Linked DNA regions of Homo sapiens. The protein of the gene in region 1 interacts with the protein of each later gene in a biochemical or structural test. Each region holds a gene or a part of one and is shown on either strand. Other genes may lie near its edges.

Region 1 (3,748 bases):
TGGGGTTTCCCCACGTCAGGTGGGGAAAACGAAAGCCAGTGATGGAGGGTCTAGGCCGGGACAGCTGCCTTGGGGCATTAGTGAGGGGGGTAGATTGGCTAAAAGGCCCGTCTGGGCTGGGGAGGGGGCTGCTTGGGCAGGAGGGTGGCAGGCTTTAGCAGCAGGCAGCAGGAGAGGCCCAGGAGAGTGACGGAGGGAGGGAGGAACTGCTCTGGAAATCCCCTAGGCCAGGGCCTGCTCTCTGGGTCACATTCTTGCAGCCACCTCCCTCTCTCCCCCAGTATCCCCTCCTCCCACTTCCTCTTCCCACTTCCATACCTCCCACAGCCCAGACACCTCCAACAGAGGGAGGAAAGTGCCCCCTGCTCTCTGGGGACTCGCTGGGGAGCCCGGACATTTCTCCCCTCCACACACACACCCAATCTGGACACAACACCTGCTTCTAACTAGAGATGGAAAAGGCTGGGGCTGAGAGGCTAACAAAAGACGGCAATGTCAAAAGTCCCCTCTCCTTGGATCAAAGGTCATCAGAGGTATCTTGCGTGCAGCCCCCAAAACCTTGGGGTTCTGGGCCTGAGGGCTGGTGATCCAGGCAGAGTACAGAAAGGACTGGGTCACTCCTCTCCCACCCACTGGGTCCACCAGCTGTCTTTATCAATGGCCACCCAGGATTAGGACCCTGCATCTCCAAAAAGCAGGTTAGGACAGCCACCTCCTGCCTCCCCTACTCCTATTTATATGAGCACCCTTGACCAGGGATTCCAGCCCTCCCCAACTCTATTTCTCATCCCCAGTTCCCAACCTTTCCCTCCTCTGTCAATGTTTTCTTCTTCCTGGGGGGCTAAATCCTCAACTGGCCAACCCATCCCACACAACTGCCTTTTACTTCAACTGCCCTCTGGCCCACTCCCACCAAACTCCATCTGGGTCTGGAGGAGGAAGGGTTAAGTGAGGGAGTGAGACACGACAGTTAGTGGGACTGGGGGCTCTGGAGGTAGAGGATGTCAGGGACGCTGACTCTAGCCCTCACTTCCCCTTTCTTAGCAGAGGAGGAAGTAAGCTGGGGCAGCCAGCCGCCTGTCTGTCTGCTGGGGCAAGAGTGCCCCAGCCTGGCTCACCCCATCCTCCTGAGGACCAGTCCCAAACCTACACCCTGGTGGCACCCCCCATGCCTAGCTTCCTGGCCCCGACTGGCAACCTGTAACTGGCACCTGTTGTTCCTTGAGACAGAGCATTCTGAGGTCAGGAACTGGGAATCCCAGATATTGAGCAAATAAGGATGTCCCCTTCCCCAGCAAGAAGAAACAAAAAAACTGGACTTGGTCAGGGGAATTTTCTCTTCCTAAGGGTGGATTATTGGTAGATTTCCAAGATGCTGGCTGGGTTAAGGGTCCTGCCAGCTCTGCCCACCCCGAAATGGGAGGACAGAGATGATTCCATGGCCTAGCTGGACCTCAAAAGTGGGCTGAGAGTTAAGTCTGGAGTTTGGAAGAGCGAATGGGGACTTGAAGGATCTTCACGGGGGAGTGGGGGTGCCCGACCTGTTGCGGCTCTTGGGCAGGCCCAGAGTTAGCATCCCGATTCAGCCTAGCCCCCATACTCACGTGTCTCCGTCCTCGGAGATGTAAGTGAGTGCTTCCAGCTGCTGAGGGCTCAGCGCCCCCACGTGGGGGAGTGGCAGGCGTGGGGCCGGGTCCTCAGCCTCGGGGCCCCCCAGCAAGGACAGGGTGTAGGTGAGCGAGGAGGAGCCATAGGTGGAATCAGCCCGCTCCCCATCCGCGTCTTCCTTCTCCTGTGGTTCCTTGACGGGTCCCGGAGGATGGGTGCAGGGCTGGGGGCTGCCGTCCGAGGGCCCGGAGGCTGGAGCCGAGGTGGACTCGGGTAGGGAGCGCAGAGAGCGCAGAGACTCAATGCCAGAGTCGTACTGGCTCTCCTCCGCCTCGTCCGGCCCCTTCCGCGCCTCCGACATGCCCGCGGCTCTGGCCGGCCGGGGCCCGGTCTGAGCAGGATCCGGCTCCAGGCTCCGCCGCGCCGCCTTTCCGGGTTGCGGGTCCGCTTGGCAGAGCGGGCGCCCGGCCCGCGGCGGCCTCCTTCCCGGGCTGTGGGGCTCCGAGGGGCCGGCGCGCAGCGAGGACAAGGTTCGGAGCGCTGGCCAGGTCCACCCAGCGGTTACTGTGGGCAGCCGAACCGCCCAAGCGGGTCCTCCTCCTCGCCCCGCCCCTCCGGACCAACAGGGTCGCCTCACGCGGATGGCCCCGCCCCCTCCCCGCCCCCGGCGGGCGCTTCCGGAAAGAGGCCCCGCCCCTCCGGAATCCCCCTTCCCGGGCTCTGCGTAGGCTTGGAGTCTGTGGTTCCCGGGCCTTGACTCACTCCTTCGTTGATTCATTCACTCATTCATTCATTCATTCATTCACTCTTTCCCCCTTCCTCCTTCACTCCATTCATTAGTTCCACGCATGTACTGTTTCCTTCTTTCACTTCTATTTCTTAATTCATTTGTTTTATTTTTATTTTTTATTTTTTTGAGACGAAGTCTTGCTCTGTTGCCCAGGCTGGAGTGCAGTGGTTGATCTCTGCTCACTGCAACCTCCGCCTCCTGGGTTCAAGCGATTCTCCTGCCTCAGCCTTTCGAGTAGCTGGGACTACAAGTAGAGACGGGGGTCTCGCTACGTTGCCCAGGCTGGTCTCGAACTCCTGGGTTCAAGCGATCTGCCTGCCTCGGACTACCAAAGTGCTGGGATTACAGGCTGTGAGCCACCGGTCCCGGATCATTCATTTGTTTTAAAAGAAATATCTATTAATTGTCCGTACAAGCTGGCATCTTTGGGGGAGGGCATGTAGGCGATGGGATGGGGAAGCACTGCTTCCTATCCCCTGCCCATTTATCTCAATTTCTCTTGCTTTCTCATCTTTCCCTATCAGTGCCCAGGGGTACGGGTAGGGAAAGGGGACTCCCATTATCTTTAAAGGAGCAGTTCTCCTGGGTCCTGGAAGACAGTCTCCTGTGTCAACGTCCCACATCACATGGAATTGGGCATGAAAATGTTTTTTTGGAAAGAGCGTCTTCTCAGGGAAACTGTTGTCTAAAAAGTAAAGTGGTTGTGGAGTTTCTTCTTCCTCAAAGGGTGAAACCCTGGCCTTGGGTAGTTACAGTTTCTGGTCAACCCCAGCAGTCAAGGAAGTGGGGTCAGGTTGGGGAGGCCCCAGACATGCTGGGTTGCACTCTGCTCAGGTCCCCAACACAGCCCCAATCTTAGTCCCAAAACATCTTTCCTCTTTCACTGTCCCTGGGCCTAGGAAGGCCGTGGGAGCACCCTACTACAAGTGAGCCCTAAGCCCATGCTCCATGATTTATTCCCTCATTCCTCCCCACTATTCCAAGTGCTATCAGCCTAACGCCAGCAATGCCCTTAGAGGGTTATCCGCAAGGGAACATGTAGCTTTTCCATCTCCAGCATTGGAGAAAGGAAGGTGGATGAGTGTAGACAGCAACGTTTTGCAGGGGGGAGGCCAGCTTTCCCACAGCCCTTCCCCTGCAACCTCATTTTATTCATCCATCATTCACCTACTTGACAAACATGTATGGAAGGTCTCCTGTAATGTCTGACGTTGTTCTTTCTACTGGAAGCAAAACTGACTATCACAGTAATAACCAATAACCACCCCCCATGACCAACAAAAAAATCCCATGGTCCTAAAAAAGCTCCTTGGCAATTACAGCTCAGAGTGGTTGGGATAAGACAGAAGT
Region 2 (3,748 bases), on another chromosome or scaffold:
GGTGGATCACTTGAGGTCAGGAGTTCCAGACCAGCCTGGAAAACATGGTGAAACCCCATCTCTACTAAAAATACAAAAAATTAGCGGGATGTGGTGGCAGGCACCTGTAATCCCAGCTACTTGGGAGACTGAGGCAAGAGAATTGCTTGAACCCAGGAGGTGGAGGCTGCAGTGAGCCAAGATTGTACCACTGCACTCTAGCCTGGGTGACAGAGTGAGACTCCGTCTCAAAAAAAAAAACAAACAAAACACAAAAACAACAACAAAAAAACCCAAAACTTCATTGGTTACATGACACTTCTTTAGATTGTTTACAAAAAGAACAGAAAAGTAGTTGTTGAAAAGATTAAATATTTTTAAATAGTAAAAATTACATAAATATCAGTTATCATATAATATTGAGTATTTAAAGTCCTTGGAATTTATTTTTCCTACTGCAGAAGCTCTTAATTGGTAAAAATTAACAAGCTGGGGGAATGTAGAGTATTACAACCAAGTAACACAGTATACTGTAATACTCTACATTCCCCCAGCTGGAAATAATCTCCCCTCCTTTAAACTACCATAGTATTCTGTGTATAGCAATTATTCCAAATAACTGTAATTTAGGGAAAACTTACCGTCTTATTTCTTCTTGAGATAAAGCTACTTGTTTTATTTCTTCAAGCTACTTGAAGGCAGAAATTGTGTTTAACTCATCAGTGCCTTGTACAGAGATATTCATTAAACATCTATTGAATGAATGACTAAAAAATCTTAAGGTCTTTTGTTTATACAAGTTATTCAAACGTTAAATAATCATATAAGTGATTAGTCAGATTTTTTAATTAGATTCCACTACTAAGGAAAAAAAAATAGTGCTTTATAGGTACCAGGATTGCTACACCTCAGTATTTCCTCATACTCATTCCTATTTTGATTTATCTGTGTTTATGATTTTTAAAAAACTTCCCAGCTATAAATCATTTATATAATGCATCAGTACAATGCACCAGTTATCTCCTTCCTCAGTACTGTGCTTTGCACAATGCCATTCTTCCTGAATATAAAATGTGTTGAAATGTAGTCATCTATGGAGTGCAAGAGGGTAAAACATAAATCAGGAAATTGTAGGGAAAATAAGTACTCTTAACTAAGATAACCTCAAATCGCCACAGTTTTGAAAAGCACCAAAACGTCTCCAAAATTGACTCTAAACAAATTGATTACTGTATTTTTCTTTAAGCAACACTATGCAAAGCTGGGACTGACCCCTATATTCTGAATAGTATTTTAAAAGGCTAATATACATCAGAATAACTTCTAAAATACAGCCAAAATGTTTGTAAGATATATCTATGTTTTTATTTGCGCTTAGGCAAGAAAGAGTGCTATTTTAAAACATAGTGCCTATCTAATAAAGCATGAGCTTTTAAAATAAAAAAATTACATTGAAATGTTTAAATGGATCATAAATTATCGGAAATAGACACATTATTAACAAACACTTTATTGCTAGAATTAGCAACCAGCATCAAGTATACAGAAAAAAAAGCTAATTATTGTAATTATAACATTATTTTAAGACCCCTTTATATACATTTCTCATTTGATCCTCTTAACTTTAATCTCCATTTGAAAAATAATAGAAATTATTATCCCATCTTACACATGATAAAACTAAAGTTGAAAATTATATGAAGTTATAATAAAAATGAATTATGAATGGTATGCTAATATGGCAGTGCCAAATTTAAAAAACAAGCATAAAAGCAACTGGAGGTAATAACTGATACAGCACATAATCTGCAATCTAAAATAAATGCAACTTAATTTAAGAAGATAATGCATCCTGGTATAGCCAAATGAGTATTTAGATCCAAAGAAATCCCTAGAACAGAGTTCATACTGGGGATGTACATCAGAATCACCTAGGTAGTTTTTTCAAAACATACATGTCCTTACCCCACTTGAGATGTTTAGAAGATAAAGAAATCTTCATAGTTTTTAAAGCCCAGATACACGTTGCTGAAAAAGCCTTCCAAGAAATTCTAACACACTCCTGATTAAGAATAATTGTCTTAAAACATGAAGTGGAAGCAACAATGCACATATTGAGAGAAGTAATCTAAAAATTCAGGTACAAATATGGACTGGGACGTGAGTAAATTAGGCAAAGCAATTCTGGCTACTTGTAACTTGAACTTGTGTTTATCTCCCACTTAAAAAAGAACCTTATTCAAATGCAAGCAAGAAAAAATGACAATATAGAGATAACCTTCAAATGCTTTCATTTATTTAAAAAGTAAATAATTTACAACACAAATATTTTAACTCTTGCAACACATCACACAAATGATTGTCACACCAGTGTGTCAACACCACAGTTGAGAATAGCTGACTAGACTGCATGTCTCTCATAAAGGTCCTCGGTGACAGACTTTGCCTGAGACCTAAAGGAGCCAATGGAGCTAACAATATATATTTTTCCAAATATCACCTCTACTCAATTTGGAGAAAAAGAAAATAAGATCTATTATTTTTTTCCTCAAACTAGGTCTCTCATCAGCCAAAGGCTATGCCAATATATCAGGCTGACTTTATTACTCCAATACATCAGGCTGACTTTCAACTGGGCCTTAAGAATCAAAGAAAGGAAATTTTCAGATGAGTATTCAACTGATTTATGCACTACAAGGTAAAAACTGTAAAAGATTCTGGCAATAGGGATTCTGTTACCAAGGGGGAAAAAAGGTAAGTCTTGAAAAAACTCTTGCACGTGCCAGGGTAAAATAAATAAATTTTAAAAGCTGTCCTAGATTATACAGGTATTAAAGTTAAAAACAAATGGCAAGACCAAATCACCTCTGTTTTAAAAATAAAAACAGAGGAGGCCCAGATAAATATGAATTTCAGAAAAACAATTTTATCCCATGCAATATTTGGGTCATGTGCCTACAAACAAAATCATTTTCAGAGAACCCATATGAGAGAAAGTTGGAACAAAATGAAATTCTGAGTCCCTTAAATTGTATTTGAGAAAGATACTATGCATAACCTAGATGTTCCTAATTATGATTCATTGTCTGGCTCCTCCCTAGTCATTACATTAACTCATTCCCTTTATCTGTGCCTATCATACGTCACCTTAATTATTTAACTCCATTGTTATTTCTATTTTTTCATGTGTTGCATTTCTGAAACATTCATGCTCATGTGTGGCATTTTACTTAAAAAAAGAAGTCATTTACTGTAGCTATCCATTCCTAACTTCCAGCTCTGTTATTAAAGATTAAGTTGCCTCACACTTACTTCCATTTCTCCCCTTTAATCGAGAAAAACAACAATTCTCTTGAAATTCACACTACAAATAGTTGGTAAGAAGTGAGGTTTACAAAAACAATTCATTTCTGTACTTCCTTCCTATTGTGTGACACAGAAGAACCATACTAAGAAAAATGTGAAGAAAAATAAATTATCTAAATTTTAAAACATTTTACCAAAGACAGCACTAATTATTAGTTAACAGAGCTATATGCCACACAAAGACATTTTGCTCTTTTTACTGGAACAATGAGAAGGTTTAAATTCAGACATAAAATATCTAATTTTACTTATATTAAATAGAATAAATATACAAAAGCAACAACTGCCTACTATGCATACCTTAGATGGGTTTGGGAACATTTTTCTTCACTATATCTATTATTAATTATGTCAAAAGACTGTGATCAAGGTGTAATTTTTTTAAAAAGCAACGAAAGGCAGC

What was found. Proteins that work in one complex are often made in the same cells at the same time.
Region 2: the proteins of NFKBIE (region 1) and REL form a complex in vitro, tested with the Homo sapiens proteins (2 studies listed by BioGRID).

Annotation. Positions count from the first base shown.
Region 1 is NC_000006.12:44,263,378-44,267,125, forward strand, and holds the start of NFKBIE (NF-kappa-B inhibitor epsilon), read right to left. Parts: upstream 2,175-3,748; 5' UTR 1,970-2,174; coding exon 1,605-1,969; intron 1-1,604. UniProt on the Homo sapiens protein: Sequesters NF-kappa-B transcription factor complexes in the cytoplasm, thereby inhibiting their activity. Sequestered complexes include NFKB1-RELA (p50-p65) and NFKB1-REL (p50-c-Rel) complexes.
Region 2 is NC_000002.12:60,884,427-60,888,174, reverse strand, and holds part of REL (proto-oncogene c-Rel), read right to left. Parts: intron 1-3,748. UniProt on the Homo sapiens protein: Proto-oncogene that may play a role in differentiation and lymphopoiesis.